2 separate regions of the Homo sapiens genome follow, and region 1 is linked to region 2. Evidence: fine-mapped expression QTL. Tissue or cell type: adrenal gland. Region 2 holds a variant in brackets; the other region holds the start of a gene. All regions are shown on one strand. Distances are from middle to middle.

Region 1 (5,368 bases), 400 kb before region 2:
TGCAGGCCCCGCCGCCGCCCCCGAAGCCGCCGGCCGCGGCCCAGCCAAGGGTCGCCCAAGCCTCGGAGCAGCCCTGGCCGCCCTCCGCCCCCTCCTGCAGTGAGCGGCCGGCCTGCGGAGAGGGAGCCCGCGACGTCCAGCCGCCCCCACCACCTGCAGAGCGACAGCAGGAAGGTTGGCAGCCACACGGGGAGCACGCCCGCCTCTCCCCGCGGCCCGCGCCCTCACCTGCCGCCCCGCCTCTCCCGCCGCTCCCGGGCGCCTCCGAGCGGTTCTCCAGTTTCTCGGGGGAGGCCTGAGTCCGGCCTCGGTCCCGCGGCCTCAGGTAGGCCCGACCGCCGCCTCCGGCCGCCACCAGCAACGGTTCCAGCTCGCCAGCGCGCACCTGTGGGGCCAGCGGCGTGTTCCAGGAAGCGCCCTCCAGCTGTCCAGGGGCACTGCCACTGGGAGAGGGCTCCCGCCCAGGGGGCCTGGATAAGGGCAGGGGCCCCCAGCCCAGCCCAGGCCAGCCCAGCCCAGCGCAGGGATAGGGGGACCCCAAGGGACGGACGGAGAGCCGGTGCGTGAGCGCCCCTGGGGAGAGGATTGGGACCCCAACGCTGAGCGCCGAAGGGAGCACGTACCCGGAAAACGTAGGTGGCGCCCCCGCCACCCCCGCCACCTCCCGCCCAGCGCCGCGACCCCGGGACCCCTTCGCTCCCATCCATCGCCGCGTGCTCTTCAACGGCTCGAGACTCCCCGAGGCAGACGAGCTGGCTCTCCGGGCTACCCTGCGGGCAGCGGGGGAGGGAATCGGCGGGGCCCGGGAGCCTCCCCTCGCTGTGCTGGTGACCCGGCACCGAGGAAAGCACGCTCCCCCGGCCCCCAGGCAGCCCTCGCCCCCGGCGCCGGCGCCGCCCCATCCCCACTGGCTGCGCTCACTCCGGGACAGGCGTCCTCTCCCTGCTGCCCCACCAGGATGTACAGCGACTCCCCGAGACCGAGGGAGAAGATTGCTGAGACGAAGACGCCATGCGCCCGCGACAGGTGGTTCTTGGCGCCTTTGCCGCCCGCGGCTCCGTAGGCTGAGATCCTGCGGGGAACGGACGGTGAGTCCCCGGCCTTCGGTGCTCAGGCCGGCCGCTCCGGGCAGAAGTTGGCGACAGAGGAGGCTCCAGAATTATTTTTTATCTGAGGGACTTGGAGGCTGCAATCGACTCTGACGGGATGGGAAGGGTAGGTTTGCACACCGAAAAATCAGATATTACACTTATTTCAGGAGGGTTCGTGGAAATGTGGGGAGGCTCAAGCACCCCTTGGCGCCGCCCTGGTTGGGGGCCTTCCGCTCGGTGTAAGAGGTTCCGGGTAAGGGCTAACTCGGTGGCGACTACTGCCACCTTGAAGGGCACTCAAGGTGGACCTCCCCGCGGAATAGTCCAAGACGCAAGTCGGTGCGCACGTGGACTTCGTTACCCTGAGGGTGAAACCTCCAACTAGCAGGTCACTGTCCACCCTACCTCCGCCGTGCACTTACAGATACTGGCCAGGGCCCGGCACGCGCCACAGCTGCACGCCTCTCAGCTGCCCGGCGGCCCCCACGGTCACCACCACGCTGGTCCCCGCGTACGCCCCGTCACATTGTGTCTGTGTGGGCCCATGCCGGCCGCTGGCCCCGCAGGTAGAAAACAGCCAAGACCCCTCGGTGCCTGAGAGCAAGGAGCGAGGCAAGGGTCGTCGAGCCCCTGGCTGGGCCAGAGGGGTCTGGTATGGTGAGCGAAAGAGGAAGGAGGCGTCTAAAGCTCACCCGGAGAATTCAGCGGGGAGGCTGGCTCCAAGATACTAGGCGGGGCGCTGACTTTCGGGTCCCGGGGGCTGGGACTTGCCAGCGGCAGGGGCGAGGACCGCAGAAAAGTCTCCTGGGACCCCGGGCTAGAGCAGAGAATGGCGCCTGAAAGGTGTTGGGAGAAGGCGCAGGACGTTAAGGCGGGTGGAAATAGGATATGAAAGAAAGAGAGAACCCCGCAACAGCTGCCCTTGCGGTCGCGGCCACACCCGTCACCCGGCCCAGCCGCGCTCTCAGCCTGGAAGCCACTACCCGACTCCGGTCGCAGAAGCCCCGCGGGTGCGCGCTGATAGGTCTGCCAGTTTCTCTCCTCGAGCGCCTTTCCCAGTGAATAACTTAGGGGCCGCAATGAATTTGGTCCTGCAGCCTCCCCAATGCTTTCCTCAACTTAGATTGGTGGCCCCGCCCCAAGGCGGTGCTGAGACCCCAAAGAATGTTCCTCCTTCCCAAGCTGCGTGATCCAGACTCTGGGATTCGCACGCACTTGGCGCTTCTCGGCCCGCACTCCAGAAGCACGGACCGGAGAAATTTGGCTGTGAGAGTTCGAGGCCTCTGGAGGAACCACTGACACCTGGCCTGTTGACCGGCCACCCCCAAGCCTAGGAAAGTGCCTCAGGCTGGACGGTCCCCTGACCGCCAGATAGCACTTACCCGCGGCTCCGAACCACACCAGCAGCTGTCCCCAGCAGCCCATCCCTGTTGGGTCCACCCGGCAACAAAAGCCCTTGCGGTCGCGGCCACACCCCTGTCAACCTAAAGTTGACAGCTCATTTTGCCACGGCAGCCCTGGCCACCACTTACAGGGGTGTGCTGCCGCTGGCGAGACACTCCCCGGACCTAAAGCTGGTCTGGCCACGCCCACCTCAGACCCCAGGACGCCAGAGGAGGAAAGGGAGGGGCGTGTGGGCAGCGAGGTCCCTACGCTTCCGGGAGGAGCCTTAAGGAGTCCCCACCCAGGGGTTCTAGTTTCCAGCCGTCAGATGTGCCGCAGCCTGCTGGGAGCTCCGGTAGGTTTGAGGCCGGAGAGGAGGTGCCCCACGCTTAAAGTGGGAGCCACACCTCGGACACCAGGTGGGGGCTTCCAGGTTCCTGAGGACAGGAGCAGTGGAGTGTGCACTTCATTTGTGGCAGTGGTGGTGGTGGTGAGTGTGTGGCATGCGTCACCACACGTGGGAAGTACTCTAAACTGCTCCAAGTAAGGCCTCATTACCTGCCATTACTTGTGCCTTTTAGTGGTGCCTTTGTGACTGCAAGGCTGAACCTCATTGCTACTCCCAGAAACCTGGATCTCTGTGTTTGCCTCATATAATTCCGTTGCCTGTGTTACCCCTGTGCACAGCCTCTCACTGTGATGGGGTGAAAGACTGGACCAGACGTTAGAAGATCCGAGTGTTTTTAGTAGCACTGAAGGTCAATAGATGATAGGTAGGTAGACCGATCGATCGATTGATCTTGAGCACTAGTACTGGCACCTCTGGTCAATGGGTGATGTAGCACAGGCCACAACTGCCCTGAGAGTTTCCCCACCACCTGCAAAATCATATGAAGGGAAATTGCTCTGTAAGGTACCCTACAAATGTGGGAGCCACTCCCTTCAGGTAGTTTTGTGTCTTGAGTCTTCGATCATTTGCTTAAATGATCATTTGCCGGGTGCGGTGGTTCATGCCTGTAATCCTAGCACTTTGGGAGGCTGAGGCGGGCAGATCACCTGAGGTCAGGAGTTCGAGACTAGCTAGACCATCATGGCAAAATCCCGTCTCTACTAAAAATACAAAATCAGACACACGTGGTAGCGCACGCCTGTAATCCCAGCTACTCTGGAGGCTGAGGCAGGAGAATGGCTTGAACCTGGGAGGCAGAGGTTGCAGAGACGAGATCGCACCATTGCACTCCAGCCTGGGCAACAAGAGCAAAGCCCCATCTCAAAAAAAAAAAAAAAAAAAAAATCCTAACTTGAAAGTCTGAGACCTATGTTTAATACAAAATACTTCAAAAGAGAAGTTATAGTAGTTAGCTACTTGGTAAAGTCTGAGTATAATTCAAGGTGTAAACAGAACAGTGATTTTGTAAAAAGTCTGGTCTCAGCCAGGCGTGGTGGCTTACACCTGTAATCCCAGCACTTTGGGAGGCCAAGGGGACGGTGGGGGTGGGGTGGATCACAAGGTCAGGAGTTCAAGACCAGCCTGGCTAAGATGGTGAAACCCCGTCTCTACTAAAAATACAAAAATTAGCCGTGCGTGGTGGCAGGTGCCTGTAATCCCAGCTACTTGGGAGGCTGAGGCAGAGAATTGCTTGAACCTGGAAGGCAGAGGTTGCAGTGAGCCGAGATTGCACCACTACACTCCAGCCTGGGTGACAGAGTGAGACTCCATCTCAAAAAAAACAAAAAACAAAAAAACCCTGGTCTCTATGCCCTACTTAACACTAGATATCACACTATGAGATCACAGAATTTACCTTGCAAAGTCTCTTTAAGCCACTGCTCTTCAAATTGTGGTTGTGTGGTTTGTTCTGAACATCAGCATCAGTATTACCTGGGAACTTGTTAGAAATGCAGATTCTTGGGTTTCACCCCAGATGTACTGAATCAGCAGCTTCTGGTGGTAGGACCCAGTGATCTGTTTTAAAATATCCTCCAGATGATTTTTGTCACAAAGTTTGAGAATCATTGGTATTTGCTGATACAGTAGTTGCTTAATAAAACCTATTGGGGCCACATGCTGTGGCTCACACTTATAATCCCAGCACTTTAGGAGGCTGAGGTGGGCGGATTGCCTGAGCTTAGGAGTCTGAGACCACCCTGGGCAACATGGCAAAACACCGCTTCTAATAAAAATACAAAAAACTAGCCCGGTGTGGTGGTGCATGCCTGTAGCCCCTGCTACTCGGGAGGCTGAGGCATGAGAATCACTTGAGCCTCAGAAACGGAGGTTGCAGTGAGCCAAGATCATGCCACTACACTCTGGCTTGGGCTACAGAGTAAGACTCTGTCTCAAAAAAAAAAAAGAAAAAAAGGCTGGGCCCAGTGGCTCATGCCTGTAATACCAGCACTTTTGAAGGCTGAGGCGGGCGGATCATGAGGTCAGGAGTTCGAGTTCAAGACCAGCCTGGCCAACATGGCAAAACCCCATCTCTACTAAAAATACAAAAATTAGCCAGGCGTGGTGGCACGCGCCTGTAATCCCAGCTACTTGGGAGGCTGAGGCAGGAGAATGGCTTGAACTAGGGAGGGGGAGGTTGTGGTGAGCTGAGATTGCCCCACTGCACTCCAGCCTGGGCAACAGAGCAAGACTTCGTGTCAAAAAAAAAAAAAAAAAAACCCAAAAAAACCTATTGGATAATTCTGTGTTCAGCAGCTCCATTTATGAAGACTGGGTTCTCTCTACCTACTGACAGGGCTAGGCCTTGGCACACTGCTCTGACTCTGGTTACTTGCAAACACAATAAGTAATCCACACAGCAAAAGACAGTCTAAGAAAGCCTAAAGTTTAGAATTCAGACCAAAGAACAATGTAGAAACTACCAAAATAGGCCAAGTGTAGCGGC
Region 2 (5,368 bases):
AGAGAGGGTGACAGAGTTTCTCTTTCGCCTGGCCTGCTCCACTGTTTGCGTTACTGGGTGGTGGCTGCAGGCATCTGAGTTTGTGGCTCCTGCTTTACAGAGAGGACTGTGGCCCCCAGGGCAGAGGGGTCCTTGCAGCAGATAAGAAGACGGCCAGCCTGGCTCTGTGAGGACTGTCAGCCCAGAAGCCAGATGGGTGGCCTCGCTTGTGAGGACACGCTCGTCTAACAGCAGTGCAGAGAGGTAGATATGCCGGTCAGGGCAGGACGGCTGAATGCAGCACCCATTGTTGCCTGGCTGGAGCTGCCCAGCCACAACTCAAGAGAGGCCTTGACAGCAGGCCAATGGCTGCCCAGCACCAGCCTTTAAGCACAGTCCTCCCTGTGCCCACGCAGTCCAGCAGCGTCCGCAGAGCCCCACAGCCCCTGCTGGAGCCCTTGAGCCTGCAGCAGCAAGGCTGCCTGAGCACATAATCCCACGGCGTGAGGCAGGTCAGGGCAGGGCTGGAGGAGGCCGCCCAAGGTGACCCTGAAGGCCACTCCCAGCTGTGATTCCCTCACAGTTCTGGGATTCCAATGTCACCGCAACATCAACCAGCCTCCTTGGACACAGTCTAAGAGGGCTGCTCACCTGACTTTCTCATGGGAGCTTCATTTACCTTTGGCCATGTGTTTCCTTTGTTTACGCATTTTGGAAGACAGGCAATTTCTGCTTTATTCATAGCCTATTATCATGGATCACCATTAGGAAGATGCGTTGTCCTTGATCCTAAACCATGGGACTCTCATTTGTCTCCAGCAAACAGCCAGACAATGTGGCACTGCACCTCTGCCCTCTGCCCGTGACATTGTAGTGGGCTCCCAGTACCTGCATAGCCTTGACCTCAGGGAAGTCCCCTGCAGAAATCTGGTATTCTCGCTGTAGCTGAATGTAGATTTCCGGTAGCCTGCTGATAAGCTCTCTCTTCTTGTTTTCCTTTCCAAATACACTTGGCATCTCCTTCTTCAGGTAGCTGATGATGTAGGCATGCACCTGGAGGGGTATAGATCAGGCAGGGAAGTGTCATTTAGAATTGCATCAGAGAAGGAACAAACAAGATTGCATCTTAACTCCATCATAACACATAACAGGTACCCACACAAACCAGGTCCCAAGGACAGGAGGAGGGGAGGGTCCAGGGGGAGTGGAGCTGTCCAAGGGTGGCCGGAATGTGGCCAGACTTGGGGAAATTCTACGGCTACTGTTCTGTTGTGCCTCTGAGTGGCAATTCTGGTGTCTGTAGGGAGTGAGTGGTATGGGTGGGGCCTGGGTGGGAGAGCTCTTAGTTCTGGCAATTAACCAGAATACCCAGGAGAAAGTTTCACCAGGCTGGTGCCTGGGAGCAACAGGAAATGAAACTGGAGGCTGGCATCAATGGCTGATCAACATGGAAATCTGTACCCAGTGAACGATGAGATGAGAATCCCCATAACCCCCCTGTTATGGGAGGTTTAGACTCTGAGATCTCTACAGGTGGAATTAAAGTCATTCTGCACAAGACCAGCTGCCTGGGATCAGGCTGGATGGCAGAAGATCCCCCTGGGAGAGGAGCCCAGAAGCCCCAGAAACCTTGATCACTGGGGCTTGGGGTAGCCAGCAGGCTGTCATTGGAGGGGCGAGAATCTGGCCTCAACATTTCCACTCTTCTACTGATTTCCAACTTCAGGATATTAAGAAATGTTCACTACAAAAGTTCTCTTTGTATATATATATTTTTGAGATGGAATCTCGCTCTGTTGCCCAGGCTGGAGTGGAACAGCGTGATCTTGGCTCACTGCAACCTCCACCTCCTGGTTCAAGCGATTTTCCTGCTTCAGCCTCCCGAGTAGCTGGGATTACAGGTGTGCACCACCACGCCTGGCTAATTTTTGTATTTTTAGTAGAGACGGGGTTTCACCATGTTGGCCAGGCTGGTCTCGAACTCCTGACCTCAGGTGATCCACCCACCTTGGCCTCCCAAAGTGCTGGGATTACAGGCATGAACCACCATGCCCGGCTACTTTGTATATCTTGAACTTCAGAGTAATTGTGAAGTCAAGTAAGTAACTAAAATAAGAAAGGATGAAAAACAGAGTGGTGATTACAAAAAGAAAATGACTATGTAGCAACGGAAAATCCTATTAAAGAAAACAGACTTCTACTGTAATCTTGTAGAAGTTGAAATTAAATAAAGGGGGTAAGCAGATACATTCCATAGCTCAGCTGAGGGCCCGTGTGTGGACACATGCTGGACACAGCCAAAAACATTTTGTGAGGATTTGGATGCTAACCTAAGTACCTAATGCAAGGTCTGACATGCTGAGGTCAGACAATGTCAACTTCCCATCTGCACAAGGGTCGTTTAACAGAAGCATGCACTGTGCAGCCTGGCTACCGCTGAGAGGATGGTCTTGGAGAGATGACGCTAAACCTTTCTGTCACCAGCAAACTTGTTTATGTACTTATTTTTCAAATGAAGACAATTGAAATGATTTACAAGATTCTTAGAGATAACTTGAGAAACCCGAAGTTTGGGATCCGTTATTTAGAATCCTGGGCTTTAACCGCTGTGATGAGCAAGTGGTAAGATACCAACTCCTTTGCCTCCGACAGTGAATGCCTGGCTTGGTGTGGGTGGGCTGGGGAGGGCCAGGGCTGAGGGAGCACCCTTGGACTGGAGGAGCTGCCACGTTCCATCAGGGAGAACCAGCTGCTCACCAGCTGTCCTTGCATCATTTCCTTGGCCTCCACCTTCCTGGAAATTCTGGATTGGGCCTATGAGTATGTTCTCTATGTATACCTATGTATACCTCTCTCTTCTGTGCTCAGGCTCACCCCACCCTGGAGC[C/T]ACCCCAAGGGAAGCAGGAGGCCCCCACAGCTGCTCAGTCTCCCAAACACAAGGGCTTCTTATTGAGACCACCCCCTTCCCTGCTCTGGGGCCTAGCCCTGGAGCAGCTGCCTAGGCCTCTGTAGGGCTTCCCAAGAGCCCTCACCACGTACTAGTAAGGTACCTCTGAGCCGCCAGGCCCCAGCTCAGGGAGGGCTTAGTTCCCGCTCATCTGGCTGACTCCTCACCCACTCCCTGCCGCCCACCCCCCGAGGTTGGGCACACTGTTCCTGAACACTCCCTGGTGCCCAGGGCCTGCTTTACCTGCACTGAACTCAGCTGATGTGCACCTGCCACACCCTTCACCCACTGAGTGTCACCTGATCCCTCGTCTCAGGCCTCATGGTGTTTGCTGGCTGATGACCGAGGTGGCCCCGACACTAGGCCTTCACAGCCCTGATAAACCTGGGGCTGATCTTGTGCCAGGTCTCAACTCCCTCCTCCTTCCGCCAGCTTGGTGCCACCTGAGTCATGACCCTTAGGTGACCTGCTCACACTGCAGCTGCTCTCGGTCCCAGCCTCCACTTCTAGGAAGTTCTGTTAGCGAGGTTTGTGGAAGTCTCCTGTTACGCTGCCTCTGCATGTCCACCCGCGTCCTGCCCTTCCTGGTGCGCCCTAAACAATAACCCAGGGCCAACTTCTGTGCACAGACCTGCTTTCAGAAGTTCATCAAGTTGGCCAGGCACGATGGCTCATGCCTGTAATCCCAGCACTTTGGGAGGCTGAGGCAGGTGGGTCACTTAAGGTCAGGAGTTTGAGACTAGCCTGGCCAATGTGGTGAAACCCTGTCTCTACTAAAAATACAAAAATTAGCTGGGTGTGGTGGTGTGCTCCTATAGTCTCAGCTACTCGGGAGGCTGAAGCAGGAGAATAGCTTGAACCCGGGAGGCAGAGGTCACAGTGAGCTGAGATTGCCCCACTGCACTCCAGCCTGGGTGACACAGCAAGAATCCATCTCAAAAAAAGAAAAAAAAATTCATCAAGTCACAAGGTAAATTATAATCCTTAGCATCATGAAATACTGAATCTGGAAGTGACCCCCCAATATCTACTTTAATTCCTGGTTCCAGGACATCCATGTGACTCACTCAAGGTCATACAGCTAGTTGGTAGATACAGAGCTGGCACTAGCATCCAAGTGCCTCGTTCCTGTCCCTAAAGAACTAATGACTCCCTGTGGGTATGCCCTGTGGGTATGCATTAATAATCTTACTGAAGTTGTTCAAAATCTGGAATTCAAAATGAACTGTGTCCCATAGAATGAGTCTGGAAAACTTTGATCTGAGGTTTGACTTCTGCTCGTGCCTAATTCACTGAGAGGCTTTGGAAGGGTCCTTTATTCTCCCTTTCCCCACACATCAAACACGGACACAATGATGGCACACAAACGTCGGGACACCACGTGGGAATGCGGGTGAAGACTGCGAGCTGCTGGCAGGATGGCATCCTGTCATTTTCTAAAGTCTTCTGGTAAACAGACGGGACAGCTTGAATGACTAAAATCCACAGTCAGCCTCCAGAGATCACTCCTGCAATTATGTGTCAAAGGTGTCTCCAAATACATGCCAGACCCAGGGCCAGACCTGGTGGTTGTCCCTGGGGAAGGAGGTGGAAACACTTGGGTCTTCTGACCTTTATAATGAGAGAAAACTAATTGGGAAGAGGAGGAGTACGAAAGAGAAGAGGGGGACTAGACCTGGAGCTTGAAGATGAGGCTCAGGCCCCGTGACCACTGCCTACCCACTGAGCAACTTGGGGCCAGGCATGGCATCTCCACCTCAGCGTGCTCATCCACAAATTAGAAATGACAACAACATTCATCTCACAGAGTTATTATGAGAATAAAAGAGGTCATGTATTTGAATGCACTCTGCTCACTAGAAAGAGGAGCAAATGTTAACTTGTTATCAACTAATGGCCAAAGACCAACAGCTGGAGGTACAGTAATGAGAGAGAGGGCTCCCGGCTGGTTACTCCTTACCAAATAATTAATAAACTCTCTCTATTTAAATAGTAATATAATGAATTTGGGTTCCAAGTGTTTAATTTACATTGACCCCTGGGGGCTTTTGAACATTCGTATCTTGTTCAAGTCATCCTTTGCCTTGTGTAAACTTGCAGAAGCCCTAAGGCATCTAATGGGGATGACTGGGGGAAATCAAATGGATCAAAATGACAAAATGACAATTTTTCTCTAGGCTAATAACTCAATGAGCAGAAAGGAAAGTCCTTCCTTTTAAATGTATATGAATGTATATGTAGTTCACACGTACACTCTGACACAGATCTCATTGTGTCCAATGATGTGTGTGTGTGTGTGTGCCTCCAAGACTGAGACACATGTACTAAAGAGTGATACTGGCCACATCTACTCTGGGCTTGGAGGGTAACTTCAGCGAGTGCTGGATGCTGGAAGCGACCAGTGCTGGAATGAAAAGCTTCATGGAATGTGAGGATCAGGCA

Which allele goes with the higher level. Positions count from the first base shown, and alleles are read on the strand shown. Sizes are in standard deviations (SD) of each study's normalised expression.
As copies of C replace T in region 2, the expression in adrenal gland of the gene that starts at base 2,634 in region 1 goes up (moderate effect, 0.51 SD a copy in GTEx).

What was found. PIP is the estimated chance that this variant, and not a neighbour inherited with it, causes the effect.
Region 1: LTK starts here. The variant in region 2 is the best candidate, but not a certain one, in a credible set for the expression of LTK in adrenal gland (GTEx, PIP 0.54).

What each region holds. Positions count from the first base shown.
Region 1 is chr15:41,511,194-41,516,561 of GRCh38, forward strand. LTK (leukocyte receptor tyrosine kinase) reads right to left here and starts at 2,634. Exons shown (of 20, transcript NM_002344.6): 1 at 2,474-2,634; 2 at 1,784-1,927; 3 at 1,514-1,685; 4 at 922-1,072; 5 at 624-770; 6 at 229-385; 7 at 1-153. The coding sequence starts at 2,516. RefSeq lists an enhancer at 1,466-2,213 and a silencer at 1,920-1,999.
Region 2 is chr15:41,908,832-41,914,199 of GRCh38, forward strand. It overlaps EHD4 (EH domain containing 4), which reads right to left. Exons shown (of 6, transcript NM_139265.4): 5 at 868-1,032. Among named protein-coding and RNA genes, the nearest start is that of EHD4-AS1, 9.9 kb to the right of the region's middle. The variant C/T (reference allele first, on the strand shown) is at 2,867.